Linked DNA regions of Homo sapiens. The protein of the gene in region 2 interacts with the protein of the main gene of each other region in a biochemical or structural test. Each region holds a gene or a part of one and is shown on either strand. Other genes may lie near its edges.

Region 1 (15,577 bases), on a different chromosome or scaffold from region 2:
AGATACGCTTTGAAGAATAGGCTACAAGAGAGAATACATTACACAATCCTACTGCTGTATAAAACAAAACATCTGGAAGAATCTATGCTTAAATATTAATAGTGTGTCCCGCAAAGTGGTAGGATAATAGTGACTTTTATTCTTTTTACTTATCTCTATTTTCTCATGTTTCTGTAATGAACATGTTTCATAAAACAAAATGGGTCTGTTATAAAAATCTGAAAACTTGTTTTTGAAAGAGAGCAGTATTACAGGCTGTAGTGTCAAATAAAATATTAATGTTAAATATCACACGCTCCCGTGAAAATAACCAACATTCTTAATTAACCTTTCAGTTCTGTGAATCTAATACTAGATCACACCTTGCTATTTCTGAAAATGTTAGTCCTGATAAAAATTAAAAACCATAAAAGAGGTAACAAATTGGCTGAAGAAAGTAAAAATTGGCACTTTAGCTTTGAGATCTTAAATCTACTTAAATAACACTAAGCAATACTTTGTCCAAATGTAAACCATTATACTAGCTGACATTAAGAATTATGTGGCCATCAGAAGGCACTTTCTTCAATAAAAGATGAATATTAATCAGACACAACTTTATATGTAATCTTCAACTAAAAAAAATTTGAGCTCACTTTTCATGTTATATAGCTTCAAGATAAAGACTTCTTAGAAACAAAAGTTCATTCTCACTTTGTTCAAATAGGCTTACGTATCAGGTAATCACTGGAAAGCAAAACTTACATTAACATACACTATGTCAATCAGATGTAAAATCTGTGCTATTATTTGAAGTACAGAACTTAGAATATATTCTTAAAAATACAATTAACACATCCCCAACTTTCTATGCTAAAAAATAAAGAAGACTGTACTACAGAGATGCCTTGATTCCAAGTATCCCACTTACTTTCCACAACCAAAAGTTTTGTTCCAGTTTTCATAAAGCTCTAAATCTTTTGGAGAAACACTAGGTCGCACAGTTCTAAAAGCATTTTCAAAATCAATGTAAGCTATGGGTCGAACTTGATCCGGTGTTATGGTAGCAATGTCAGCAGTTTGTAAACTGCGAATAGGACCAAGAGAAGCCTCCCTGCAAAGCTGTGTCATGTCTGCTCCTGAAAACGCATCAGACTGCTGTACAATCTGTTCAATTTCTTCTTCACTGAGGCAACACTGCTCTTTGGACATTAGATTAATTACTATCTGTTTCCTGGCTGAAGCTTCTGGGAGGGGAATATAAAGCCTTTTCACCAATCTTCTCCGGGCAGCCTCATCAATTTCTTGTGGCCGATTTGTTGCTCCCACCACTAGGATACGATCTTCAGAAGATGTTGTTGCTCCATCTAATTGAACTAAAAATTCTGTTTTTATCCTTCTAGAAGATTCATGCTCACCATCTCCCCGTTGAGATAACAAGGAATCAATTTCGTCAATAAATATCACAGCTGGTTGCTGACACCTTGCAACAGCAAACAATGCACGGACCATTTTCTCCCCCTCACCTACCCATTTAGAAGTTAAGGATGAAGCAGAGATGCTAAAGAATGTTGCCCCAGACTGACTAGCAATGCACTTGCCAATTAGAGTTTTACCAGTCCCAGGAGGACCAAAGAGCAAAATTCCTTTAGGGGGTCCCCTTAAACCAGTAAAGATGTCTGGCCTCAACATGGGCCACACAACTATTTCCTTTATGGTGGCTTTAGCAAATTCTACTCCTGCAATATCTTCCCAATTTACTGGAGGTCCATGATCCATAATCTCATTCATAATAAGTTCAATCATCTTTGGCTCCAAGTTCTTCAGACGCTCATCAACTGGATGTGCTGGTTCTGTAGGTCCTGCCCCATAAGGCTTACATTGCATTCCTCCATTCTGCTCTCCCCCATCTTGCTTGGGTATAGGAGGAACAAACTTTCCAAGTATCCCTCGGGATCTACTAGCTCCTAGAGACTTTTTTACACCACCATATGAAGACCCTGATGCACGCTGAGGTTGGTGGTACTTTTTTTGCTGATCTACCCATAATTGTTCTTTTGCAGTTTTAAATGTAGGCAGGCTGCTATCCTCCTTTGGGCCATTATCTTCTGTTTTACTACAAGCCTTATTCAGTATTGGATTGGAAAGTGCATCAATGGTGCCAGAACCATAAAAAGACTTCCTCTGTGGATTTTCACAGGCAGCAGGAAAACAAGACTGGTTAGATAAGAACACATTAAGTCCTATGTTTTCTTTTGCAGAGCTGTGATTTTCCTTTTTGACATTTCCAAACAATGGTGTGACATGGAATTTTGCAGTAGCTGACTCACCTACAGGTGCTGAGAATGTAGGACAAGTCCTAGCAGTGTTAGTCACCATAGGTGGCTGGGCATTCTGAAGGAGTTTCAAACGATTGCTCTCCGGGAAGTCTTGGGTCCGGTCTCGATCATGAGCTGAGTTAGGTAATGAGTCACTCTCTTGAGAACTACCACAAACACTAAATTTAGGAAGATCAAAGACAGTGGCCTCCTTATGGATTACCACTGATGCAAGAGCAGGTTCCAACAGAGAGTCTTTGAATTTTTTGCCAGCTTGCATCATCTTCTGTACACTACTCATTTTGAAAACATTATTTATTGACAATCCAGACTGCCACTTGTCACTATCTGTTTGTTGAGATCCTGCCAAAGTTAAAATGTTTTCTGCATAATTATTCAACCCAGATTCAACATTGTCAGAATCAATAATTGCAGAATATTTCTCTGCATATTTTTTGAACAGTTTGGTAGCACAGACCTGGGAAATCTCAGAGTTTGCCCATGCATACTGAATGCGTAATATCTGTGCACGGTATGCATCTGCCTTCGGTCCGGTACATATGCCAGATGTAATTGCGAAGTAATTCTTCTGCCATTCACTCAGGTGCACAGATCTAGAGCTGGAGGTCTGCATTTTAGAGGTTCTATAACAAACAATAAAAATGAAAATCAGTATGAAGGAAAACAAAGAAAATACTTTAAATGTAATTTTGAAACTTCTGCTAATCTGAAGGAAGGGACACTGGACTTTTTATTTATAATGTAGATTTATAAGGACAGGTTATAAGAGAAATATCTAGTTAACTATAGATTTCAAGTATTCAAGACATATCAATATGAAGTCTTCAAAATTAAGGACTTGATTAAATAATAATTTATATGAGTTAAATTGTTCTAGTTACATAATTTTATCTGTAGGGAAAGCATTCATAAGGTTTAAAATTAATTTTAAATTTTAAAAACAATGGAACTATAGATACATAAAGCAAAACAAAATAAACAAGAGGTTTAAGTCTGATCTATAAAACTAGGTGAATGAGCTTAAGTGAGCTTTTTACTATCACTGATGGTTTATTTTTATTTTATTATTATTTTTTTTTGAGACAGTGTCTCGCTCTGTCACCCAGGCTGCTGGAGGGCAGTGGCGCTCTCAGCTCACTGCAACCTCCACCTCGCGGGTTCAAGTGCTTCTCCTGCCCCAGCTTCCCAAGTAGCTGGGATTACAGGCACCTGCCACCACCCCTGGATAATTTTTATATTTTTAGTAGAGATGGGGTTTCGCCATGTTAGTCAGGCTGGTCTTGAACTCCTGACCTCAGGTAATCCACCCGCCTCAGCCTCCCAAAGTGCTGGGATTACAGGCGTGAGCTACCGCGCCCAGCTGGTTCTTCAGTTTTCTTATCTGCAAAGTGAGAGGAACCATTGGAAGAATCAAATCAAGCAATGACTATGAAAATAATCTGAAAACTATCATTATCCTTATCACACAAATGTACAAACCGAGGCTGAGAGACTTAAAGAACTTACTTGAGATCACACAGCCAGTTATGAATGGTATCAGAAATCGAACACAAGCAGTTTCACTCCAGGTACTGTGCACTTCTGCATGTACACAATGCTCCTTGATGCTGCTATCCTAGGTCACAGATTGAACAGCATGGATCACAAATTTAAACTATGGCATATTTAAATGGTTTTAATAACATTCATGAATAAGTTCATCACCCTAAACAGAATGCCCTAGAATATCTGTTTCCTAATTTCACATAATTATTAAAAAGTGAAACTGTTACAATAAATGAAATAAGAGAACAAGCTAGCCTACTAGGAAAATGCTTTTACTTTAGATTTCTTCTGTCAAGTTATTCGCATAAGCTTCCTCACATTGTTACCTTTAAACAGAACTATAGATGTATCATATTGCTAGATATATAGAATTTACTTACATATCCACAAGAAAAATTTATGAAAAATTTTTGTTTCCTAACAGTATTTCAATTAAATGAAAACCAAGAAACCCTACTTTAGGTTCAAGTATTTGAAATTTTGCCTTCCAAATTACTTGTAAGTACAACAGCCAGGTTTAATGCAGCTTTTATCTCCCATAATGCCTTACAAAGACATTTGTCACATTGTAAGTAGGTGTTCACAAATCTTTGTTTAAAAAACAATTAGAAAACTTAAGATCCAGAGCTTTAAAGACACTGTAATTTATTTAAAGCTGTAAAGCTAAATAAGCTAGAGTCAAAACTAGATCTGACCTCTTCTGTCAAGCAGTTCATCCTTTTTTTCACTATACCATTTTGATGTTAAACTCATTTATACAATACTAGAAATGAGAAACTGAAAGAAAGGTGACTCAGAAAACACTTGACACAAACTTTCACAATTAATATTATCATTCTCTTCCTCTCCATGGCTTCATTCCCCTTTATCATCTGTTATCCTGAAATTTCTACCATACCTCAGAGTTCTAGTCACTGTTCTCAGAATAAACCCCCTTCTCTTTTCCATCTTCACCTTTCCTTCAATATTCATCTTCCAAGTCTTACTTCTTCCTTTCAATTCAATCATTTAAATGGCAAATAAGGATAACCAAAAACTGGCCATCACCGATCAGTGACACAACCATTGTCTTGTTTACCATTTCCAAGTCAATTTAACCTTTATGGCCTTTCCTAGATCTAAAAAGTATGATTAATTAGCACTGTCATATGAACTGCATTTCAATCTTCTTTATTTTGCCAATGTTCTGATTATTTTAATAATGTCATTATCTGTCTTCCTAGACAGTTGGCTTCTGCAGGGAGGAATTGTTTTCCATTCCATTCACATTGTCTTAGTACCTAGAATACAGTGTCCTTTGGAATAATAGCTACTAAAATACTGACGGAGTGCCTACTCAGTACCAAGCACTGTGCAAGCCTTTCATAGGATTCTGTTCTTGATGCAAAACGGGAGTTAAGAGCACAGGGTCTGGAGCCAGGCTGCCTGCTTTCAAATCCTGGCTCTATCATCTGCCAGCAGTGACTGCAGGAAAATCTCTTAATGTCTTTCTGCCGGTTTTCACCTATAAAAGAAGCGCAGCAACATCACTGAGCTGACAAGGTATTTTAATTCTGCAAAGCACTAGACAGAGGACTCAGCACTTAGAAAATACTCTATAAAATACTGCTTCTTCTGATTCCTCACGATGACCCCTGAAAGGTATGAGCCCTTCTTTCTCATCACAGAGATTAAGAGCTTGCCTGGGTCACAGGGGAACTGACTGACCCCCGCTGTGGGCGCCCAGAGCCCCGCTGGGCCCAGTAAATGCCTGCGGTAAGCGGCCCCGCCCCCGGACAGGCTCTGCCAAAGGAAGCCGCCCGCAGACCTGGCCCCGAGCCTGCCGTCCACGCCGGGCCCCAGCTTCCTAATCCTGGATGAGTCTGGTTCTGGGCTAGCGGGTCAGCCACCCTCCCGCTAAGACAGAAGCAAAAGGGCACAGCCACTGCCTGGCTCCCGCCTCCCACGGCCTCCCGCGAAGTCACCGCCCCGCGACCCCCAGCATTCCAGAGGCACACGCCCGCCTCTCCCCTACGCCCCAACCCTGATGCTCCACAGGGGTCAGCAGCGCCCCTGCCCCGCCTCCCGTCACCGCATCCTACCTGCGGCTGGTGTGGGACGCTGGCAGCCTCCGAAAAGCGCGGGGACTGACGTGCGCCTGCGCGCTGCTGTCGCCCTCGGACTCGCGCCGTACGTGCGTGCGTGAGTGCGTGAGTGCGTGCGTGCGTGCGTTCGGCGCGCGGGGCGTGGGCGCGGCACCTGGGCCCGGGCACCGCCACCTAGGCCCTAGCTCCGACCAGTGGTGTTCTATAAACGCTTATTACATCATTGTGCATAGGCTTCATTTTTAAAAGTACTCCCAAATAAATACAAGGAGGCGATGGAAATTGAATGAAGATTCGAAGGATTCCCATAGAGCGTGGCTCACTTCCCCTCACCGGGACAGCGAGCGGCGGCTCACCTGGGAGAGCAAAGCGTGGCTCTCCTGCGCCCACCCGGGAGAGCAAACAATGGCTCACCTGCGCCCACCCGGGAGAGCAAGCGTGGCTCACCTGCGCCCACTCGGGAAAGCCAGCCGCCATCCTGTGCTGCAGGCAGGGAGCGGGCGGCGGGAGAGGAGCGGATCCACTTAGGTCAGCGGTTAAAACGTCGTTACAAGAGGCCACCCCGGCATCGCGGGGCCTGTGGCTGCGCCCCCTCTTGAATTCAGGCCTAGCACATCACCTCCGCCCCTCGCACCCTGCAGTCTGCGCTCCATACAGCACGTGAGCGGGTGCTCAGCAATGTTCCCTGGCTGAAAGAACCGCATAGAGTAGCATGCAAAAATGACATGCATGTTTAAGATAAAATAAGGGAGAGGACACCTGTTCTGACTGAGTCTGGCAACTCAGATCTCCCCGCAGCCAACATCTACATTCCTTTGGACAGCTGTCTGCTGTGTAGGGACACCTCCCTGGAACTTTGAAAAGCACCCCATCATTACCTTCCACTTTGTTCTGGAGCAAGGTTTCAAAAGAAGAGTGCCGTATTTTGATTAATTTAGTGAATTGGATTTTCAGACACAAGTAAGAGCATCCACTCAGTGGCCTCTGCAGTAAATAATGATATCAGATCACATAACAAGAAGACTGGAGGTTGGCGGGAAATCTGGACCTGGTGACTCAAAGAAGTCATGAAGGACCATCTCTCCATTCTGCCACCTTCTCGCCTGTGGATTTTCCTCCCCAGGCTTGTCACTTCATTGTCGAGAGATGCCCTCACAATCCAAGCCAGGCAGCCTCACATGACCAGATCTAAAACACAAAGAGGGAGCCAAACTGAGAAAGGACCTTTTCCCTCTGAACACTTCTCTCTTGGAAAAAGAAAATGTTTCCCAGAAAGCCTCATAGCCTTCCTCTTATATCTCCTTGACTAACTGGGACCCGGATCCCTGGATATCCTTTCCTGAGAAAGAGAGGGTCTGGGGCAGGGGATAGAGAAAATGACTAGCAACTAGCAGCACATGATGTTTAAACATAAGATTTAAAGAAATGCAAGGCACAAACAATTTGAAGACTTTTTTTAAGTTTTTAAAATCTTCACAAAATAAAAAGGAATTGGACAATGCACTTTAAAAACTAGAAGACGTTTCACTGAAAACAGCATCTCCTAATTCATTTCATGGCTTAGATAGTAATAGAAAATTATTTTATTCTAATTCCATACTTTATCAACTAATTTTAATTATTTTATAATTACCCAAAATATGTCATGTAGAATGAAAATAAAAGAAAATGAAAACAGTTATATCAAGGCCAAGTCAGTTGTATGTTTACTGGCTATTTAGAAATTTCTAAATACGTGTATATTTAGAAATGACTATATAGATACTATTTGGGTAATGTTAGGGATGGAAAGTTTATGTCCCCCCAAAATTTGTATGTTGAAATCCTAAGCCCAATGTGATGGTTTTAAGGGGCGGGGCCTTTGTGAGGTGATTAGGTCATGAGAGTGGAGACTTCATGGATGAGAATAGTAAGTATCCTTATAAAAGAGACTCCAGAGGCTGGGTGCAGTGTCTCATGCCTGTAATCCCAGCACTTTGGGAGGCCGAGGCAGGTGGATCGCCTGGGGTCAGGAGTTCGAGACCAGCCTGGCCAACATGGCAAAACCCTGTCTCTACTAAAAATACAAAAATTAGCCAGGTGTTGTGGTGGGCACCTGTAATCCCAGCTACTTAGGAGGCTGAGGCCTGAGAATTGCTTGAACCCAGGAGGTGGAGGTTGCAGTGAACTGAGATCGCGCCACTGCACTCCAGCCTGGGGGACGGAGTGAGACTGTCTCCAAAAAATAAAATACAATAAAAGAGACTCCAAAGAACTTTCTAGCCCTCTTGCCACCACCTAAGGATGCAAAGAGTTGACAGCAACCTGGAAGAGCCCTCACCAGAACTCGACCATTCTGGCACTCTGACTTCCAGCCTCCACTGTGAGAAATAAATTTCTATTGTTTATGAGCCACTCAGCATATGGTACTTTGTAGCCCTAGACAGGCTAAGACAGGTAATTAGCAATTTTAGGTGATTTTCATCATCAAAATTTTCATGATGGCATTTTGGAGAATTCACATAAACCACTCTGTTACCCTCCTAAAAGTATTGCTCAAATACTGAATTATATTTATGCTTGCCAAAGTTAATTTTTTTCCAACAAGTAACACTAGCCACTTCATTTTGTGCTTTTGATACAAAAGCATTTCCCAATCCAGCGGCTTTCATCTTCTGGCCTGGTTGGCAAAAGTGTAACTCACTTCTGCACCCTCTCTGAACCCTAGTCTCCTCCTCAAATGTAAAACAGTAATAAACCTTTCTTACCCAGGAAGCCATTATAAGGATTATAATCAACATAAGATATAATTCTTTAATTATCAAAGCAGTTGCTGGCATGTGGCAGGCATTCAACAGAAACCGTGTTGCTATGTTATTTTTATTGTTACCATTAATATTCCTATTGGGATTGAAACCCTTATGTCATATCAAAACTTTTCCATCTTTGACAAATGAGACATATTAGGATAGTATCTTAATAATATGTAAGAGTTTAGTGCTTGAGCTATTCAATTATTAAACTTTGCTTCCAAGACCACAGACTGGTGGTATATACTGTGTGCGTGTGTGTGTGTGTGTGTGTTTGTGTGTGTGTATGAGAAAGAATATGCTGTTCTTTTCTTCTTCTGGGTAGAAGTTGTTGAGCCTTCAAGGGAAGAGGTTTTCACCTACAGCAGACAGTGCCAGTTCTCTTGGTGTGAGGGATTCTGGGAGATGGCTGCCCATTTCCATATTCATGAATTTTATAAACATGGTCTCAGATAAATGCAAGTGTACACTTCGGTGAGCTCATTTGTTTTTGAGCAGAGGGGATAATACGGCCCTAAATAATGTGCTTCCCTGTCAGCCAGGAGAGTTACATTCTGGAGATGTGTGTGTCGGTGGGTGCGGGAGGCAGGTGGTGTTGAGGAGATAGGGAAGCCAACAGGACAAAGCTCAGAGGGAAAACAGCCCAATCTAAATCCAGTTCTTTCTCTGTGTGGATTCCCACTGACTTCCAAACCTCTCAGCTCCCTGACTCAGTGGTAAGGAAGAAAAAAGTACCAGGATTGAGGGGATGGTGTTCTAGCCCTCCAGCAGAGGAGTAAGATGTGTGAGCCCAGGGTGAAGCAAGTGCACAATTTTAGTAAAAGATTTTCATTGGCCATACTGAATGAATCATAAAGGGATGTGAAGAGGCTACCTCTGGCATCATTGTCATAAACACAGCTGGTGAGGGGGGAGGTGGTGTTCTCCTGGTGTCAAAAGACAAAATTATTTACAGATCAAATTGGCTTTTATTCATGATTCATGAATCCAGTAGCCTCCATTCTATAAAATAGAATTAGAGTTCCCACTGGGGAATGGCAGAACAGTGGTTTTGTAAGGTGGGAACAAGGAAACAGTATTATTTTAAAGGTTGATTGGTTAGTGTCAGCTTAATTCAGACTACTTTTCTCGTCATGGTTAAAGCAAATGGGACTTCCTTATTACTCTGACTCAGGCAGACTGAACTCTTTCTGATGGGTTGCTGTGACTCTTGTTTTCAAGAAAAACTGGTCTATTTGGGGACCACCAGCTTTCTTAAAGTTTCAGCTTGGTTAAATGGCACTTAGCATGAGTGACTCCACTTTAGTTTGGTCTGTTGGGACCTAGTGCAGGAGCTCACTCTAAAACAATGCCCTCCCGTAATTTTTCTATAGCACCTGAAACGGGGTAGAGCAGAGATTGAAGGAAACATTTGCTTGGGTCGTCATTTTCCTCAAGGACTGCGCTACCAATTGGAGTCAACACTTCTAGGTGCCTCCAGTTTGGTACAGTATGTAAGGGGTTGAATTGCATCCCCCAAACAGATATGTTGAAGCCCTAACCCCTGGCACCTGTGAATGTGGCCTTATTTGGAAAGAGGGTTGTTACAGCCATAATCCAGTTAAGATGAGGTCCTTCTGGATTAGGGTGGGCCCTCATCTGATTGATTGGTGTCCTTATAAAGAAAAGGAAAAGAGTCACAGAGGGAAGAAGGCCATGTGAAGATGGGGGCAGAGATTGGAGTGATGCTGTCACAAGCCAAGGAATGTCTGGGTTACCAACAGCTGGACTTTGTAGACAGCATGGCCCTGCCAACACCTCGATTTCAGTTTCTGCCTCCAGAACTGTGAGAGAACACGTTTATGTTATTTGAAGACACTGAGACTGCCGTCCATTGTTCCAGCAGCCACAGGAAACGAATGCCCTGCATTCTTACAGCACTGCGGCAGGGGTGGAGTGATTAAGAGCAGGGGCTATGGAGTCAGCTTTCCAGGGTTCAAGTCCTAGCTCCACTGCTCAGGAGCCACTACTGAGAATTGTTCAGAATCAACCCAGCTGAGGTCTGAAGATCATTTAGACCGGAGCCTCGCCCACGGTAAGCACTGCCCAGGTGCCAGGTGTTATTATGGCTGGGCTGGCCAGTTCTTCCTCTTAGGTTTCCTTGCTTAGAGTTTGGGAAGGAAAAAATAACCCACCTTGTTGGTGTTTTTTTCTACTGTTTTTAGGCTGCTTAACCTTGCTGTTTCATAAAGTAGCCAAATTCTCTTATTTTCACAGGACATTGGAATCTCAGATATACAAGGAAGCTGAAGAATTTTCTAATTTTCAGTCCAATCTCATGGACTGAAAAGTCAGTCTCATAGAAGACTGACTTTCCGATGTCCCAACTCTTGGTTTTTTCCTATCTCCATTTGAGCACCTACAATGGAGAATTCACTGCCCTGTAAGAAAACACCTTCCACTTGCTGATAGGCTGACTTCTAAGTTTTTCTTTGTATTGAAAATCTGTCTCTTTCACTTTGTCTTTGGAGCTAGAGAGGAGACTCTTCAAATTAAAGGGAGTGTAAAATGTGAAGACAGCTGCTGAGTCCTCTTTGAGTCTGTCCTGTGAGACACCCTTCCATTTAGAACTCTTCCTGTGTGACTTGGCTCCTCTCTCACAACACCTGGGGACACATCCATCTCATAAATCCTGGGGTCTAGATCTCACTTCCACATTGGAGCACTTTGGGATTCACAAGGTCTGCTGCAATACAGCCTGCTCTGTTATCTTCTTCCTCTTTCCTCTACCATCCACTGCACATCTGTGCTCTGGGGAACCATTCACAAGTTTCTCTAAATTGGTAGCTCCAGATGTATCCAGTTTATGCAAGCAACTTACACTCACAGTGCTTTCTTATTAATTTTTTTCTACTACTTATTACAAGTGTAAGTTATGGCAAGTAACCCAGAGGTATTAAGGAAATAGATTTTGATATCAAATGCAGTTGAAAAGGCAAAAAAAAATTATAGTGTTTGACGTTTGGATATTTACATAATTTAGAAAAGCAATGAAATGATCCCTAGATAAAAAAGCCGTTAGTCAATGTTCATATCTTTCCTCAAATGTAGACTTTCTGAATTGCATACCAGCAGAATCAGTTTCTAATTTGTCATGTCTGTTGGATTTCTGAATTAAGGGGTGCGGGTGTGGAGTCAGTGGATATTAGAACTGCCCTCCCTTGGGGTCTTCTCCTCTCTTGTTTCTCTTTGAACTGTGGCACACCCTCATGATGATCAAGGGGCCACCCAGTGACACCTGCTCCCCTTTTTGTCTTGGGCTTTCCTGCAGGCTCCTTGGTGATGGGCATGTGGTCAGCAACAATGAGATTCTCCAGGTTTAGGGAGTATTGCTGTTTGCTGGATTTTAGAGAGGAGACATGTGATTCCAGGACAAATCTTTCATATCAGCTGTTAGTTGTGTCTAGATCAATCTGGGACTTTCCCAACACTAAGCAGGAGGGGCCTGTTATCAGGAGATACCAGAGGTCAGTAAGGAAACATCTAATTCCAGTGCCAGCAGCACTTTGTGCACTCTTTTTGACACTAACTTGAATATGTATTTAAATAAAGATGCTCTGTATTGACCACAGATTAGTCTGAATAATCCAAAACTTTAAAAACTTCCCCACATTGGATGTGGGGTCTAGGGGCCCCCTAGGGATGGTCTAGGGTCCAAGACTTTACCTTGGTAGGCAAAGATAGGGCTTTACCCAGAAGAGAATAAATGTCTTCACTGCCAGTTACCTTCAGAAATGGTTAATCCTGGGTAGCAGATGGCATCTTTTGCAGCATAGTTTACTGGGCAAGAGCATGGATTCTAGAGCCAGGCTGACTGGGCTCCAATCCCAGCTTGGTCACTGATTATATGACCTTGGGATAAATCACTAAACCTTGCAATGCCTCAGTTTTCTCACTTGTAAAATGAGCATAATAATTGAGCCCGCATCGTAGAATTTTAAAATAAGTATTAAATTAATACTTTAAAACACGTGTAACAGTGCCTGGCATACAGCAAGTGCTATGGGTGTGTTCTTGTTAAATAAACTGGGAGGAAGTTATTCTTCCTGTTTCTAGGGCTGGGGGATTCAGATCTGAGAACCACTTTATGGAGGAACCTGGAGAAGTCAGGAGGTGGGGTGAACTGCTATGAGTTACCTAGAAATGAGCGAGAAATCAGACAAGCTTTTCTCTCTGTTGGGTCTGTGTCTAAGCTGATGTCTTAGACTCTCCATCAAAAGGATCCAGCCAGTTCGGAGGGAGGAAATCTTCAGTCACTTGCTGGCCTCCTGCCCTGCTTCTGTACAGCATCCCCGTTGGCCCCTGCCACCCAGTCTCCTCCCTCCCATCAGGTCTCAGCCATCTTTCTGAAGTATATTTGTGGATGAGGCTGGATGAGCCCACTAAAGCAGAGAGCTGGTATCAATGATGTTGGTGGCTCACACTGGAGCCCTTGCAGCAATCTTAACTCACGGGCTGAAAAATAATCTTGTAAAATTTAGACATCCCAGCCTCAACTCAACCTGAGTACTCCACACTCCACTGGTCCTATCAAGGGTGGCCCCTGGTGGGCCCCAAAAACACAGCCTCTGTCCCCACATCATGATGGAGAACAGGTCTTGTTTGCTGTTGAGTAGAGAACAAATGACCTGACTAAATTAGATGGGGAACTACTTGGCATCTGACATATTTCCAGATTTTTGAGTAACAGATCGTATCATTCACTTAGTTCACATAGATATCTGAGGTCTTTGAAATTCAAATATACTTGGTAATAACCCAAGGACCCTTTCTGACAGTGCCTTTGATAGTTCTGTAGTCTTCAAAGGACAATAACTAATCTTAGGATTAAAACACATGTTTCTAAAAGCAAAATGGTTCCCAATACAGATAGTGAACTTAAAGTGAGATTGAGTAAATACCATATCCTTGTTGGAATTAATGTTTACAGAAGTACTCTTCAGTTGCTTATCAATCATGATACTACAGGACAGATAGACTTGTCGGACCAGAAAATCAAGGCCCAGAAAGCCAGAGAATCCTTCCCATCACAGCAGAGACCTCGATCTCATTGCTCCAGGTTGACTCTTGGTTCTAATTTTATTTCCACAGAAGTTGAAGTCATCTTCAAGTAAAACCTGTGTATTGTTAATGTATCCAGAACAGTGCCTGACATATACTAGGCACTCAGTGAACATTTGCTGAATAAATGAATGCCGTTTAAAAACATCCAAGGATGCTGTATCTTTGTCTACTTTGGAGGGAATGTCTGTATCACAAGAATAAATTTGATACAACATAGAACAAGATGATCATCTGACACAATTAGTATTTCACTTGAATTGTTTATTAGGCATTTAGCCACATGACAAAAGACAATTTGAAGACCACAGATATAATTTCAAGTTGCGTGAACATTGATTGCCCTGGAAAATATATCAGTGAGGCTTTCCTACCACTTCTGATGACTGCAAGAACATGAAAATCTATAATGTTTTAATCAACAAAAATCACAGCTAATGAATAAAAGCTATGGCCATGAAGATTAACTTTTTAATTAGCAAATAATATTTCTTTGTTGATGAGATACTAAGCAGACAAAATCACAACCCTCTGGATAACTTTGGAGAAAGACATGGGAAGCCACAGACAGCTGAGTTCCATGAAGGCAGGATGATATTTATTTGCTTCTTATTCCAGTTTTCAGATATATCTCTCTTCAATTTTTGATTCCTACAGGGAAAAAAAATAGCATGAGCATATGGCTACATTAAAAAAAATAAAGAAGTCCCTCTCCCTCTCCCTCTCCCTCTCCCTTTCCCTCTCCCTCTCCCCCCTCTCCCTCTCCCCACGGTCTCCCTCTCCCTCTCTTTCCACGGTCTCCCACTGATGCCCAGCCGAAGCTGGACTGTACTGCTGCCATCTCGGCTCACTGCAGCCTCCCTGCCTGATTCTCCTGCCTCAGCCTGCCGAGTGCCTGCGATTGCAGGCGCGCACCACCACGCCTGACTGGTTTTCGTATTTTTTTGGTGGAGACGGGGTTTCGCTGTGTTGGCCGGGCTGGTCTCCAGCTCCAAACTGCGAGTGATCCGCCAGCCTCGGCCTCCCGAGGTGCCGGGATTGCAGACGGAGTCTGGTTCACTCAGTGCTCAATGGTGCCCAGGCTGGAGTGCAGTGGAGTGATCTCGGCTCGCTACAACCTCCACCTCCCAGCCGCCTGCCTTGGCCTCCCAAAGTGCCGAGATTACAGCCTCTGCCCGGCCGCCACCCCGGTTGGGAAGTGCGGAGCGTCTCTGCCTGGCCGCCCATCGTCTGGGACGTGAGGAGCCCCTCTGCCTGGCTACCCAGTCTGGAAAGTGAGGAGCGTCTCTGCCCGGCCGCCATCCTATCTAGGAAGTGAGGAGCGCCTCTTCCCGGCCGCCATCCCATCTAGGAAGTGAGGAGCGTCTCTGCCCGGCCGCCCATTGTCTGAGATGTGGGGAGCGCCTCTGCCCCGCCGCCCCGTCTGGGATGTGAGGAGCGCCTCTACCCGGCCGCGACCCCGTCTGGGAGGTGAGGAGCGTCTCTGCCCAGCTGCCCCGTCTGAGAAGTGAGGAGACCCTCCGCCTGGCAACCACCCCGTCTGGGAAGTGAGGAGCGTCTCTGCCCGGCAGCCACCCCATCCGGGAGGGAGGTGGGGGTCAGCCCCCGCCAGGCCAGCCGCCCCGTCCGGGAGGGAGGTGGGGGAATCAGCCCCCGGCCCGGCCAGCCGCCCCGTCCGGGAGGGAGGTGGGGGGGTCAGCCCCCCGCCCGGCCAGCCGCCCCATCCAGGAGGGAGGTGGGG
Region 2 (16,180 bases):
GGATTGTGTCTGCTATGGTTTGTAGGATGCTTGAGGTCCCTGGGAGGTGGGGAGTCACTTCAGCTCAACCATAAGGGGAGGGTGCACCAGTGTCTCACATGGGGGTGATGGAGCTTGGCCCTAGGGGATAGAGCTTGGAACAGCCTGTTTTGGGGATGACGTGCTACTGGGTAAGATGGTTTTAGTGTTGGCAAAGCCACAGGGATGAAGGGGTACATAGCTGCACACTCCCAGAGCACAACACACTCTAGCAGTGGCTCTGGTTCCAAGATGGTGCAGTGCAGCAGCAGCACAGACCATGGGGGAGGGCACAGTATCAGCTCTTTCTCTTAGATAGCTCAGCATATGAACTCTGGGGAGCTCCCTCAGTTGGGCTCAGAGCTTGTGAGGACTGTGGGAGCCTCTGGTAATGAAGATTGCATGTGTCCACGGTGGTGATGGGGTTTGCCGGGGTCCTCCTGCTCACCTTTTCCCTGCAGGAAGAAGGCTCTCCTGGTTCCAAGCTGATCCTGAGTGGATAGGGTGGCAGAGATGAGGTGTATCCTTTCCTTCCCTGTGCATCCATCCTGGGTTTCCATACTCTACAGAGTTTCTGCTGTTTCTTTATTGTTCTCCAGAGCTCTCCTTTAGTTATTTTGATTGAAATATAGTTGTTTCTTCACTATATTTTGATTTTTTGTTGGAGTTGGGGATGAACCTAGGAGCTTCCAGTCAGTCAACCATCTTGTGACATCCAAGAATTACTTTCTATTTTTCTTTTTGTATGGTATCTTTGCCTGGCATTGGTATCAGGGTAATACGGGCCTCACAGAATGAATTGGGAAGTGTTCCTTCATATTTTATTTTTTAAAAGAGATTGAGAATAACTGGTGTTAATTCTTCCTTTTTACTTTCTTTTTTTTTTTTTTTTTTTAGACAGGGTCTCACTCTGTCACTCTGTTACCCAGGCTGGAGTGCAGTGCTGCAATCATGGCTCACCGCAACCTCAAACTCCTCACCTCAAGCAATCCTCCCACCTTAGCCCTCCCAAGTAACTGGGACTACAGGCATGTGCCACTATGTCTGGCTAATTTTTTTTTAAATTTTTTTGTGGGCCGGGTGCAGTGGCTCACGCCTGTAATCCCAACACTTTGGGAGGCCAAGGTGGGCGGATAACGAGGTCAAGAGATTGAGACCATCCCGGCCAACATGGTGAAACCCTGTCTCTACTAAAAATACAAAAAAATTAGCTGGGCGTGGTGGCACGCGCCTGTAGTCCCAGCTACTCGGAAGGCTGAGGCAGGAAAATTGCTTGGACCCAGGCAGTGGATGTTGCAGTGAGCCAAGGTCACGCCACTGCACTCCAGACTGGGGACAGAGTGAGACTCCGTCTCAAAAAAAAAAAAAAATTGTGGACATAGGGTCTCACTATGTTGCCCAGGCTGGTCTCAAACTCCTGGGCTCAAGCAATCCTCCTGCCTCAGTTTCTCAAAGTCCTGGGATTACAGGGTGTTAATTCTTCTTAAATGTTTGGTAGACTTTACCAGTGAAGCCACCTGGTCCTGAATTTTTCTTCGTTGAGACTTCTTGTTAATAGGGTCTCTAAAGTGCATTTGTAAATTCCCAGTAATTTAAGCCTAATTTTGTGTCACTAAAGCAAATGATAATGTGCTGTAAAGTTGTGGTGAGTGATTTTCATTTAAAAGTTCATTTTAGAAATTTAAAAAAAAATTTATTGTACCACTTTGCCTCAATAAAGCAAGTTTGGTACACCCCAGATACGTGTTAGCCAGTAATAACTCCAGGCAAAACAATAAAAACTCTTAAACTCCCAACCAAAACAAAGGCAACCCATTTTAAAAATGGGCAACTGATTTGAATAGATATTTCTCCAAAGAAGATAGAGAAATGGCCAAAAAGCACATGAAAAGATGCTTAACATCATTAATCATTATGGAAATACAAGTCAAAGTCAGTAAGATACCATTTCACAGCCACTAGCATGGTTAAAATATTTTTTAAAGGGGAAAATTATAAGTATTGGCAAGGATGCCCTCTAACATGGCTGTAGGGAATATAAAATGGTGCAGCTTCTGTGGAAAAGAGTTTTGTGGTTCTTCAGAAAGTTAAACCTAAAACTGTAAATATAATCTAGTCATTCCCCTCCTGCATATATACCCCCAAGTGAAAACAGGTGTTCAAACAAAACTTGTCCACAAATGTTCAGCGTAGCATTATTCATAATAGGCAAAACGTGGAAACAACACAAAGGTTCATCAATTGATTAATGGATAAACAAAATAGTAATCCACCCAATGGAATATTATGCAGCCATTAAAAAGGAATGTAAATTAATATAGCCATTAAGGAAAAACAGTATGGACATTGCTAAGAAAACTGAAAAATAAAACTACTATGTGATCCTGCAATCTCACTGCTGAGTATATACCCAAAGGAACTGAAATCTGTGTGTCAAAGAGACATCTGCACTGCCATGTTCATTGCAGCATTACTCATAATAGCCAAGATATGGAATCAACCTGTGTCCATCAACACGTGAATGGATAAGGAAAATGTGGCATATATACACAATGGAATACTATTCAGTTTTAAAAAAAGGAAATCCTGTCATTTGCCACATGTATGAAGCTGGTGGACATTATGTTAAGTGAAATAAGCCAGACACAGAAATACAGATACTGCTGATCTCACATGTGGAATCTAAAAAAGTCAAACTCATAGAAGCAGAGAGTAGAATGATGGTTATCAGGGGTTGGGGTGAGAGATGGGTAGGATAGGCCACATTTCAGTTAGATGGAGAAATAAGTTCAAGAGATCTATCTATTGTACAAGATGGTGACAGTAGTTAATAACAATGTATTGGGTGGGCACACTGACTCATGCCTGTAATTCCAACACTTTAGGAGGCTGAGGCAGCAGGATCGCTTGAAGCCAGGAGTTTGAGACCAGCCTGGGCAGCATGGTGAAACCCTGTCTCTACAAAATTAAAAAAAAAAAAAAAAAAGTCAAGTGTGTTGGCATGCGCCTGTGGTTCCAGCTACTTGGAAGACTAAGGCAGAGGATCTCTTGAGCCCAGGAGGCTGAGGATGCAGTGAGCCGTGACTGCATCATCGCACTCCAGCCTGGGCAACAGAGTGAGACCCTGTCTCAAACAAACAAACAAAATGTATCATATACTTGGAAATTGCTAAGAGTAGATTTTAAGTGTTTTCAACCACAAAAAACCTAAGTATGTGAGGTAATGCATGTTTTAATTGGCTTGATTTAGCCATTCCACAATGTATACATATTTCAAAACATGTTGTACAACATAAATATATACAATTTTTGTCAATTAAAAGATAAGTTTAAAAAGAGAAAGTGGGACTTTTGGCAGTGAGTAGGTAATGAGGGTAAATCCCTCATGAATAGGGTGAATGCCTTTAAAGAGACCCCAAAGGGATAACTAGCCCCTTCCACCATGTGAGTGAGAACACACTAGAAGTGCCATCTATGAGGAATGGGCCCTTACCAGACACTGTATCTGCCAGAGCCTTGATCTTGGACTTCTTAGCCTCCAGAACTTTGAGAAATAAATTTCTATTCTTTTTTTTCTTTTCTTGAGACGGAGTCTCGCACTGTCGCCTGGGCTGGTGTGCAGTTGTGCAATCTCGGCTCACTGCAACCTCCGCCTCCCGGGTTCAAGCGATTCTCTTGACTCAGCCTCCCAAGTAACTAGGATTACAGGGGCCCCACTACCACGCCTGGCTAATGTTTTTGTATTTTTAGTGGGGACAGGGTTTCACTATGTTGGCCAGGCTGGTCTTGAACTCCTGACCTCGTGATCTGCCCACCTTGGCCTCCCAAAGTGCTGGGATTACAGGTGTGAGCGACTGTGCTTGGCCTAAATTTCTATTCTTTTTAAGCTATGCAGTTATGGGTTGTTAGTTGATGGGTTGTTATAGTAACCCAAATTGACTAAGAAAACCAACTAAGGCCTAAGGCCTAACATAGGCCTGGCACATAGTAAACTTCAATATTTGTTTGTTGAATGAATGAATGCACATTCCTTGAATAATCTGCATTTGACTCTATTTTCCACTCCTACTTTTTATATATATATATATAAACCATTTGTATACTTTTGAGAACCTAGATCCATGGTTCTCAAAGTGTGATCAGGAAAAAGAGATAAAGTGAGATTCACCAAAGTTGAAAACCTCTGTGCTTTGGGCTTTACCACTTATTGGGTTTGTGGCTTTTTGCAAGTTATATAACATGTCTGTGGTGCAATTATCTCATATGTAATCATAATTGTACTTCACACAATTGTCATAGAGATTTTCTGAGATAAATGATAATAATAATTGCTAACACTTCCTGGGCACTTACTATGTATCTGCTGTGTTCTAACCCATCAGGTGAGGCACTATTTTCATTTCATATAAAGGGATTAACATTGCCTGCACATATAAATGTCATATTATTATTATTAACATTATTGTAGTCAATGATTAAAGAAAAGGCTGACAAGGCCTTTTCTTCCCACCCTGAGTGCACGGATCTCCTAGTCGGATGTTTTGTGGGAGACCACTGTGCAACAGCCTGTTACTCCGTGCAATTGCATCCAGTCCAGTGCTTCTCACAGGTGAGCATGCATCAGAGTCAGTTGAAGGGCTTGTCAAAACAGATTGCCAGGCCTTGTCCACCAGGTTTCTGATTCAATTGGTCTAGTATGGAGTCCAAGAATTTGCATTTCTGACAATTTCTCAGATGCTGCTGATGCTACCAGCCCCTCACCAAACATTTTTAAAATAATTATTTTATTGAAATATAATTCAAATACCATAAAATCACCCTTTAAAGTGTACCATTCAGTGATTTGTTACAATATTCACAGTTGTACAACCATCATCACTCTAGAACAAAGTACACATTTTTCTTAATTTTTCAATCTGTTTTAAAAATAGGTATACAAAACAACATAAAAAAGTAGAGATGGAGAAGTCCTCCTCCCCTCATCCCAATCACTTGGTTCCTCCCCTCCACCAGGTAACCCCTTTTATTTCCTATACATCTATTTCGATGTAGCATTTCTTCAAGCAGATATAAGCAATATATGGTCTTTTCCTGTTTTCTTGCACTAGAGAGGCAGCACACTATGAATCATATTCTGTCAATTGTTTTTTTCATTTAGTAAAGCTGGAGATCATTATGAAGGTATTACCATGGCACATTTAACAGTCTCCTTACTCTCCAAGTAAACAAATATATCAATTTTTTCTAGTCTTTTGCTATTGCAAACTATGCTGCAAAAAATACCCTTACATACATATCATTTCACATGTGTTATCATTTCATATGTGTATCCTCTAAAATTCAGGTGTTGCCAAATAGGCCATGAAGGCTCCTCCATCACTAATAGGATTAAGGCCCTTATAAGAGGCTTCACGCAGCATTCAGCTAGCTTGCTTTCTTGCCCTTCTGCCTTCTGCCATGTGAAGATGCAGCAGGAAGGCCCACACCAGACACCAAATGCCAGCTCCTTGATCTCAGATTTCTCAGAGTGAGAAAGTAAGTATCTGTTCTTTGTAAACTACCCAGTCTCAGATATTCTGTTATAGCAGCACAAAACAGACTAAGACAATATGTGTGCAGGTGTATGTGTAGGATTAGTTTCCAGAAGTAGGACTGCTAGCTTAAAGAGTAAATACACTTATAATTTTGAAGCATATTTGATAGGAGTTGCATAATTTTGTACTTTTGTTAGCAATACATTAGAGGGCCCTTACCCCAATATGTGTTGTCCAGGACTTAGATTTTAGCCAATATGGTAGGTGTGCAGTTTAAATTTGCATTTCTCTTGTCATGAGTGAGACAGTACATTTTTCATATGTATAAAAGCCATTTGTGTTCCTTTCTCTGTGAACTGCCCTTGTCCTTTGCCCATTTTCTACTGGGTTTCCCCCAAGGAATACTCTTGCTTACTCCTCCAAGAGTAATTTATACTTTAGGGGGCTGTTTCTATATAACATCAATATGAACTATTCTTTAATTTTGCCATTTGTCTTTGCCTACTGTGTTTTTTTTGCCATGCATAAATTAGGGTTTTTATGTAGTTGAATCGATCAATCTTTCCTATTACGACTAGGACATTTTGAGTCATAGTTGGAAAGACTTTCTCCCCTTTCCCCCACTCTAAGATTATAAAGGAATCTGGTCATGTTTTATTCTAATACCTTGACATTTTTTCACGTTTAAATCTTGGATTCATTTATAGCCTAGAGCACTGTCATCTACCAGACTAAAAAAGAATATGGATGAGTAGATTCTAAACATTTCTCCCCATATTAGATCTTTCTTTAAATACAATCTTGCCCCATATATAAGACAGATGGAAGAGAGCTGCCCTGAAGGTGCAGCAGAGACCCTCCTGTGAGTCACACCCTCCCCAGACTCCATGGATCTCCATGGAATCCTTAGGATGGCTGTAAGCAGAGTGAAGACCACAGATATCTGCAGAACAGCAACTAGGCCAAAAAGTTTGATGAGAAAAAAGTTAAAAGAAGGACTTTCTGGTTTGTCTTGATGTTTGCCATTGAGTGTTTGCTGAGGAGGAAATGAGGCAAGACTGGAGAGGACTTAAGAGACCCTTTCTGCAGGGGCTCATCTTTATTATCAACAGTTCCCTTTTGCTGAGTTCATATGTTCAAGTGAAAAATTCCTCATGATTCTACTATGATCTGATTGGTGTAGTGGAGAATGCATCGACCTTGGTATCACATATGAGTTCTAATCCTGAACAGTTACTAGCTGTGCAGCCTCTGGCAAGTCATTTCTGTTTCACAATTAGCAGTTCATCCATAGTAAATAACTGAGTACTTTGTATATGGAAGACGCTGTGCTAACTGATAGAGATACAAAAACGGAGAAGATAGAAATGGTATTACCTTACAGCATGGAGGTGGAACCACATGGTAAACAAATAACTTTCGTAATTATTTAGATTCTAATTGTTATAACATCTTCAACAGAGCATGAGGTCCTGCGGACATGGAAGAGCAGGGAGGTTCAGGCTTGCTAGTTTAGGGAAGCTGGCCACCAGGTTCAGGTTTGACAGGCGCATAGGAAATGGCATGGCAGAGGGAGGCCAGAGCCTTTTAGGCAAAAGGAAGAGCAAATGCTTATTAGACCCCAAGGCTGCAGGAGCTAGGCACGTTTGACCACCGAAAGGGAAGGCCAGTATAGACAGCATAAACCTCACTGTGGTGTCTGTGTTGAGAATGGATTGTATGTGTGTGCTGTGTGAGGGGCAAGAGTGGATTAGGGGACATGGGTTAAGAGCTACTAGCAGTCTGGGCAAAAGATACTAGTGGCCTGGGAAACAGTGGTAGTGGAGAGTGGACACATTAGTAAGACACACAAACGTGTTCACAAAAATTCCTAGGTTTCTGCGTGAGCTGTGGCCAGGTGGATGTCCATGCCACTACTGAGATGGCGAATTCTGAACAGGAGGAAGTTTGGAGAAAAACCCCAACATTTCGGCAGGACAGCACCTCCTGGTGGAGATGACAAGCGGGAGCCTCACCACAGGCCTGGTTGTGGGAGTGAAAGGGGGACTCCGGGCGCGGTCGGGTGCACTTACTGTGCTAAGACAGCAAGGCCCGGCGGAGGTGGCAATGGCAGACCTGGTTTCTCGGCGGAGTCCCAGTGGGAGGCCCGGTGTCCAAAATCCTCAACTAGATTGGGCATGCCGTTTATCTTGTTCCAACTGTTGACAGTAATGGCACTAGCAATAATGTCCTTCCCAGGCAAAGATGGTTTTTCTTCCGTGTTTTCAGCCACTGCAGAGTGGACATCTACTATGAACCAAGTATCTGCGGCTTTAGGTACCAGATTCAAACACAGAATGGTGGCAGAACAGGGACTAGGACGGAGAGAAAACCTGAAGATGGATCAACCAGGAAGCAATGCATTCTCACAGAGGCACAAAAAAATGCCTCTGAAACAGAAGATTCACCTCCACTTCTGCGTCCTTTTGAGGCAACTTTCTGAGCATCCTTTCCTCCTCCCCAGGCCAACGCTTTTCCACCTTGTTAAACTACCCGGTAGCTTTCTCCATGGGAGGCGCCTTCTTCACAGTACTCGGACCCAGTTACACTTGTGGCCTTCCCCGGCTTCTGCTGGGCCGGCTATGGTCGACGCCGCACCGTCTCAGGCCCACTTCTCCTGCGGGAGCGGCGGCCCCAGCGGAGCCCCTGTGCGCCACGGCGAACGTGATAGGAATGCAATCTTCCGCCCCTTCAGACTCTGGCACCCCGTAGCCTTTCCTCAGGCTCCACGAGTTCTCCCGGTGATGTGATGACCGACATGGCGTCTGGGCTCTGAACACAGACTTTACTCCTTCCCCCCGGCCCCGAAACATGGGGAAACCACACCCTCTCTGCTCCAGTCACCAGCAGCCACTCCCATTCCTTAAGTATCCATTATTGCATGTGTAGCCTATTGCATGTGTAGCCTACTTCTGGTTTTCATTTTTATTTAAGGTCAGTTGTTGCCTGACAACACAGACGACAGTAACTTAATTCGAAAGACAATACTTGGAGGCGGCCCCCGCTCCAGGCACCAGCCCAGCAGCTCCCCCGAACTCCCCAGGAGCTCGCGGGCGAGCAACGCCACAGCCCAGAGCGAGCTCCGCGGAACCCCCAGCCCCGGGGAAGGAAGCTCGACTCTCCGCGGGGCACTCCTTCCGGGCTCCGGGCCCGACTAGGCCATCCGGGAGGCCCTGGAGCGCCGGGGCCGGAGAAGCCCTGCCCCCCGCCGAAGCCCCGCCCTGCGCCCGAGCGCCCGCCAATGGCAGGGCGCGGTGCGGCGCGCCGAGGTGGGACGGCGGCGCGCTGAGGAGGCGGTGCGCTCAGGCGGCGCTCCCGGAGATGCCCCGCGGCAGCCGCGCTCGGGGCTCTAAGGTAGGCTCTGGGGCGGGAGTGGGCGCCGCGCCGTTTCCCGCGTTGCGGGGAAGCGGCGGGCCGGCGCGGGGCTGGCCCCGTTGTGCTGGGGTGAGAGAGGGTGGGCGTTGGGGGTGAAGGGCTAGGTGGTGGCGGGTCCCGTCTGCGCGCGTGGAGCAAGCCCGCGCAGTGGGGTACCGCCCCCAGGTCCGGCTCCGGTCCAGGCGTGCGGGCCGGGCCCTCAGCGGCGGTACGGAAAGCGAGGGGTGGGACCGCCGAGGGACGCAGCGGGCGGGAGCATATGTCCGCCTCGGGGGTACTTGGCCTTACTCTTGTCTCTTTTTGATTCTGGTGTAATGTACCAAACCGCAGGGAATCCTGGCGTGGTTTTACCCGTCTCCGCGGATAATCCACTGTCAACTCTGTCTCTCTTCCTGCCGCACTCGGAGGGGACTGTGCGGCTGACTGCCCAATCCGTGGGCACCGCGCTGCCTCGGGTTCCAGAACGGGAGCGGGTGCCTAGGAATCGTTGCTTGAATGGTGTTTGATTGCACCTGTATCCGCGAGTGCATCCTTTTTTGTTCTGCTAATTGTGCTTGTCATGGCATGTGTCCTTTATCGTTTTAAAGTTTCTTCTAACTTCCTTGCTTTCAAATACGTTTGTCTCATAGTAAAACGGTTTTTAAAAAGCAAACACAGGACCTCCTTTCTTGACTCTTGCCTTTACTTGAAAACTTCCTGGAAAAAATAGACCACATATACTGGTTCAACTTCTTTACCACTACCATGCTTTCTCGCTTCTCAAATACCATTGATTATCAGCCCACACTATCAGTTTTGTGACTGGCTTTAGGGAATAAAGAAATTCATTTCAGGCACCTCTTGATTATAAGATACAGTCTGATTTCTGAAGCATTAATGTGTGAAAAAAATCAAGGAAATATATAAATTTGCTAAATCCAGTGTAAGTTGTTTACTTGATCATTGGAGCGTTTGACACATTCACCACCTGCTTTTATTTCTTTTGGAACATCCATGATTGTTTTCCTGTCTTGCAACAGCTCATTTTCTTCTCTTTACTGTGTTCGTGCCATGTTCTAATTTTTGACCTTGTGCTTTTTCACATGTTCCATATTTGCTTTGGACAATGTCATACATTGAAGTTAACTATATAGATGACTTTCAGATCTATATTAGATCTTTCCCTAGAGCTCAAACTTAGTGCATCACATAATCATCATCTCACCCTTAGTCCTCCAGGCCCTAACAGTTTCTCTTGACTTAGAAATCTTAGTATTTTTGAATTGACGTTCACTTCTGGTCTCTTCATCTTGTCATTTTTCAAGACTCTTTTTTTTTACTCAATTTTTTTTAGTAGTCGTACAGTTGTCTATTGTGTAATACGTTGCTGAAAACTGAAGCAGTTCATAACAAATGTTTATTATATCATAGAGTTTCTGAGACTCAGGAATCTGAGAACGGCTCAACTAAGTGGTTGTAGTTCAGGATCTCCCACAAGGCTGCAGTCAAATAAAGGGTCGTTGGAGCTGGAGAATCCAGTTCCAAGCTCACTCACGTGGTTGTTTCTTGACAGCTGCATAGGGCAGCTCACAACAGGGTCCTGGCTTTCCCAAGAGCAAGAGAGAGAGCAACAAGATATCGGTCCCCGTGTCTTTTATAGCCTAAACTCAGAAGTGACATCCCATCTCCTGTCTATTCATTACATGGACCAACCCGGTACAATGTATGAGGAGACTATAGAGGGTCCCCAGGAGGTGGGGATCACAGGGGCCACCTTGGAGGCTGGCTTCCACAGTATTTCCCAGGAATTTATTTTTTGTTTCTGTCTCCCTCGGTCAGTCTCAAAAGTACTTAATGGTTGGAGTGTTGATGTGTAGTGCCGGCTAGCATGCTCCCATTCCATCTTCAGAGGTGACTTTCCCTTAGGCACTACTTTGATTATATTGTTAGTCCTCTATCTAAATCTCATTTTACTTCTTATTGGCTACATCATAATTTACTGCAGAACTTATCCTGTGTTTAGTGCTTTATATGTATTAACTAATTTAATTATTTTAACAGTCCTGTGAGGTAGATACCATTAGTCTCATTTTATGGATGAGGAAACTGAGGCTCAGCAGAGAGGCTAAGTAATTTGCCTAAGGTCACACAGCAGTTAAGGGAAGAAGCTAGGATTTGTATCCAGGTAGTCTGCCCCAGACCTTGCTTTTGTTCAGGCTCTCAGCCTGTTATTCACAGCCTCCATAATATCTGTGTCTTATTCCTTTACAGCTTTGCTCATTATTTATCTTATAGGTAAACTAGACTACTGCGTCACTGTACTTGCTTGCCCCTTGGTGGTAATTGCGTATGTTCTTGGTTTGGAATAATGCCAGTTCTCCCATTTCTGCTGATTGAAACCTTTTTTTTTTGAGACGCAGTCTCGCTCTGTCGCCCAGGCTGGAGTGCAGTGGCGCGATCTCGGTACAGGCGCCAGCCTCCACACCGGGCTAATTTTTTTTAAATTTTTATTAGAGACAGGGTTTCACCGTGTTAGCCAGGATGGTCTCGATCTCCTGACGTCGTGATCCGCCCGCCTCGGCCTCCCAAAGTGCTGGGATTACAGGCGTGAGCCACTGCGCCCGGCCATGAAATCTTAATCATCCATTGAGGCCTACTTCAAATCCCACCTTCTCCCAAATTATCCCAGCTATAAATGAACTTTCTTCTGTATGTTCTTGGTTTGGAATAATGCCAGTTCTCCCATTTCTGCTGATTGGAATCTTAGTCATCCATTGAGGCCCACCCCAAATTTCACCTCCCAAATTATCCCAGCTGTAAATGAACTTTCTTCTGTAGTCTGTGGAATTTTATGTAAATAACTCTTACTATTCCATGTCTTACATTAGGTTTATTTGTGTCTACACCTTTATTCCCTTATATTCTAGACATTTAAGATTAGGGACTATTTCTTCAGCCCATATTCCCCAGAATACCTGTCATATCCCTTGTATGTACTAGATATCTGATGAATTAATGAAAGGAGAACTAGTTTAGAAGATTTGCAAGTATTCCAGGTGTGAAGAAACAGGAGGAAATACCCTAGTCCGAAGACTCGGATATCTGCCTCAGCAGTACAGCTGAATGATTTTGCAGTTTTGGACAAGCCACACAGATATATCACGACTCTTAAGATGAAAGGTGGTGTGGTTATGGACTAAGGTGGTGGAATTAGGAATAGAATAGAAAGGACTGGGTTGACAGACTACAAATGGAAGGTGAGATTTAGGCAACTGCAATTGAAAGAGGAAGAGGAGGAAACCCATGGTGATTCAGAAAGTCGAACCTATGAGAAGTGAGAAAGTTGTTTGCCTCTTAACTGATGTTAGGATATATAGATATATCCTATATATCACATATATAGATATGTGGTATTTAAGTCCCAGGGAGATTAGGGCAGTCAGTTGCTCAAAGGCTGGGGTATCTTAGTTCTTTCCTCACTCCCCTCTCCTCCATGAGTTTCTCCTGCCCTAGCCCCTCACTATCCCTTAACATGCTGTGATTCTTCCCTTTGTGCCTTGTGTTCTCCCTTTCCTTATGAAGTAGCCAAGGACGACCACATATACTCCTGTTCTTGGGCAGCAGCTTGCCTTTTGAGATTTTCTTTTTTTTTTTTTGAGATGGAGTCTTGCTCAGCCACCCAGGCTGGAGTGCAGTGGCCCGATCTCGGCTCACTGCAACCACTGTCTCCTGGGTTCAAGTTCTCTGAATAGGGCAATATACCTAACATTGAGTTGTCGTTTCTTTATAAAATGGGGTTAATACCTATATTGCTGGGTTGATGTGAGGATTAAATTATGAGAATGCATGCGATGATATACCGAGCATATAAACACTCAATAAATGTTGGTGATAATGAAAGCAATTAATAATGAAACACCATGATAATTAAAGAAATCATATGAGGACAAAGATATTGTACATCCTCTACTGCTTTGTCTCTAGATTTCCCTGGAATTGCTGTCTTTCAGCTTCTTGAACAAGAAATAGGAAAAAGGCTCATTTTCAAGTTTTTCAGTGATGGCAGGAAATTCTCATAGTTATCTTGGTAGGAGTACCTCATGGTTCCAGTTTAAGGCCTTGATAGTCTCATTGAATGATTTACTGGTGGCTCTACATCTCAGAATTAGACTACTTAGTATTGACATCTCAGTTGTCTTTTTTTTTTTTTTTTTTTTTGAGACAGTCTTACTCTGTCGCCCAGGCTGGGGTGCAGGGGTGCTATCATGGCTCACTGCAGTCTTGAGCTCCTGGGCTCAAGTGATCCTCCCATTTCGGCCTCCTGAGTAGCTGGGACCACAGGCCATGCCACTGTGCCTGGCTAATATTTAAATTTATTTTGTAGAGATAGAGTCTTGCTGTGTTGCCGAGGCTGGTCTCGAATTCCTGACCTCAAGCCGTTCTTTCTCCTTGGCCTCCCAAAGTGCTGGGGTTACAGCGTGAACCACTGTGCCTGGCCTAGAGGTTGTCTTATTCCTCAAACCAAAGGGAAAGAGAGGAAAGAGAGCTTTTATTGAAAGCTTTCTATATGTCAAGCACTTTGCATAGAGTACCTCATTTAAGGGAAAACATGTTTTCTTTTTAGTCAAAATAATACATGTTCATAGGTAAGGTAAAATAGTACAAAAAAAGTTTGTTGTAAAACTCAGCAGTCCCTTGCACATCTCATTCCATTTATTTTTATTGAGATAACTGTAAATTCACAGACAATTGTGAGTAATATAGAGAATAATTGTTTTATAAACTAAATCTGGAGGCTGGGCCTTGCTAGATCAAAGTGTTGACAGATTTCATGTCTGGTGAGGGCCTGCTTTCTGGTTCACAGACAGCCATATTCTTACCATGTCTTTATATGGTGGAAGAGGTAAAGGAGCTCTCCAAGGTCTCTTTTATAAGGGCATCAATCCCGTAACTTCTAATCACCTGCCAAAGGCCCCACCTCCTAATACCATCAGGTGATCTGCCCGCATCGACATCCCAAAGTGCTGGGATGACAGGCGTGAGCCACCATGCCCGGTCTGAAGTTTTTTTTTTTTTAATACAACATAAAACTCTCATGATTTATCGAAGTTGTTGTGCATATCAGTAGTTTCTTTGTCTTTTTTTTTTTTTTTTTTGAGTTGGAGTCTCACTCTCTTGCCCAGGCTGGAGTGCAATAGCGCGATCTCGGCTCACTGCAACTTTCCGCCTCCCCAGTTCAAACAATTCTCCTGCGTCAGCCTCCCAAGTAGCTGGTACTACAGGCACCTGCTGCCATGCCTGGCTAATCTTTTGTATTTTAGTAGAGACAGGGTTTCACCGTGTTGCCCAGGCTGGTCTTGAACTCCTGAGCTCAGGCAATGCAATCCACCCACCTCGGCCTCTCAAAGTGTTAGGATTACAGGCATGAGCCACTGTGCCTGGCCAATAGTTTCTTTGTTTTAATTGCTGAGTAGTGTTCCATATAATGGATATACCAGAGTTTGGATTAACATTTATTATTGAAGGACCTCTAGGCTGTTTTCAGGTTTTGGTTATTGCAAATAAAACTGCTATAAACATTTGTGTACAGGTTTTTGTGTGAACATAAGTTTTCATTTCTCTGAGATAAATGCCTAAGTATGTAATTGCCAGAACCTATGGTAATTTGATGTTTAACTCTATAAGAAACTGACAAACTTTTCCAAAGTGGTTATATCTGTATAATTTTGCAGTCCCATTGGCAATGTTGTTATTCAGTTTTATAGATAATAAAATCTACCCTTTTAAAGTGGAAAATCCAGTGGTTTCTAGTATATTTACAGAGTTGTACAAATGTTCCTAATTGTAGAATATTTTCATGACCCCAAAAAGAAACCCCATAGCTATTACTAGTCAGTCACTCCCCATTCTCTCTTCCCTCATCCATTGGCAACCACTAAGCTACTTTCGGTGTGTATGGATTTGCCTATTCTGGACATTTCATATAAAGTGTGGTCATTTTGTGACTGGCTTCTTTCATTAAAAATAATGTTTTCCAGGTTTATACATGTTGTTGCATGTATCAGTACTTCATTCCTATTTATTTTGAATAAATTTTTTATTGCATGGACATACTGCATTTGAAAAATCCATTTATTAGTTGATAGACATTTGGATTATTTCCACCTTTGGGCTGTTAAGAATAATGTTGCTTTGAACTTTTTTTTTTAATTGAGATCCGGTCTCATTATATTGCCCAGGCTGGTCTCAAACTCCTGGCTGGGCTCAAGAGATCCTCCCATCTCAGCTTCTCAAGGTGTTGGGATTACATCCGTGAGCCATCGCACCTGGCCTGCGTTGAACATTTGTATATGCATTTTTATGTAGACCTAAGTTTTTCTTTCTCTAGCAGTGGAATTTTTGGGTCACATAATAACTGTATGTTTACATTTTGGATAACTGTTAGAATTTTCCAAAGTGGTTGCACCTTTTACAGTCTCACCAGCAAGGAATGAACATTCTAATTTTGCCACATTCTTGCTAACACTTGCCATTGCCTGTCTTTTACTTTTAGTCATCCTAATGGTTATGAAGTGTTACCTCACTGTGATTTGGTTTGCAGTTCCCTAATGAGATTGAGCATCTTTTCATGTACTTATTGGGCATTTCTGTATCTTCTTGAAGAAATGTTTATTCAGCTTATTTGGCTGCGTTTTCATTGGGTTATTTGCTGTTTTATTGTGGAATCACGAGTTCTTTAAAATTCTGTATACTGTTCCCCTATAAGATGTATGATTGCAGATATTTTCTCTCATTCTTTGGGTTTTCTTTTCATTTTCTTATTGAAGTACAAATGTTTTTAATAATTTTGATGAGGTCCAATTTGTTTTTTCTTTTGTTTCTTGTGCTTTTCGGTGTCATGTCTAATAAATCATTGCCTAAACCAAGGTCACAAAGATTTATTCCTATGTTTTCTTCCAAGAGTTACAGTTTTAGCTCTTACATTTAGGTCTGTGATTCATTTGGAGTTAATTTTTCTACACACTGTGAGGTAGGGGTACAACTTCATTCTTTTCGATGTGGATACCCAGTTGTTTCAACACTGTTTGTTGAAAAAATTGTTCTTTCTCCTTGAATTGTCTTGGCACTTTTTTGTTTTAATTGAAAATCAGTTGACCATAAAAGTAAAGGTTTGTTTCTGGTCTATGAATTCTATTCCACTGATCTCCATGTCTGCCTTTATTCTAGTACCATAC

The links.
Region 1: the proteins of SPIDR (region 2) and FIGNL1 form a complex in vitro, tested with the Homo sapiens proteins (one study listed by BioGRID).

Annotation. Positions count from the first base shown.
Region 1 is NC_000007.14:50,444,357-50,459,933, forward strand, and holds the start of FIGNL1 (fidgetin-like protein 1), read right to left. Parts: upstream 5,995-15,577; 5' UTR 5,945-5,994; intron 5,368-5,944; 5' UTR 4,762-5,367; exon of another isoform or gene 3,934-4,761; 5' UTR 3,825-3,933; intron 3,700-3,824; exon of another isoform or gene 3,612-3,699; intron 2,942-3,611; 5' UTR 2,932-2,941; coding exon 907-2,931; 3' UTR 1-906. UniProt on the Homo sapiens protein: Involved in DNA double-strand break (DBS) repair via homologous recombination (HR). Recruited at DSB sites independently of BRCA2, RAD51 and RAD51 paralogs in a H2AX-dependent manner. May regulate osteoblast proliferation and differentiation.
Region 2 is NC_000008.11:47,252,047-47,268,226, forward strand, and holds the start of SPIDR (DNA repair-scaffolding protein), read left to right. Parts: upstream 1-8,891; 5' UTR 8,892-8,912; coding exon 8,913-8,945; intron 8,946-16,180. UniProt on the Homo sapiens protein: Plays a role in DNA double-strand break (DBS) repair via homologous recombination (HR).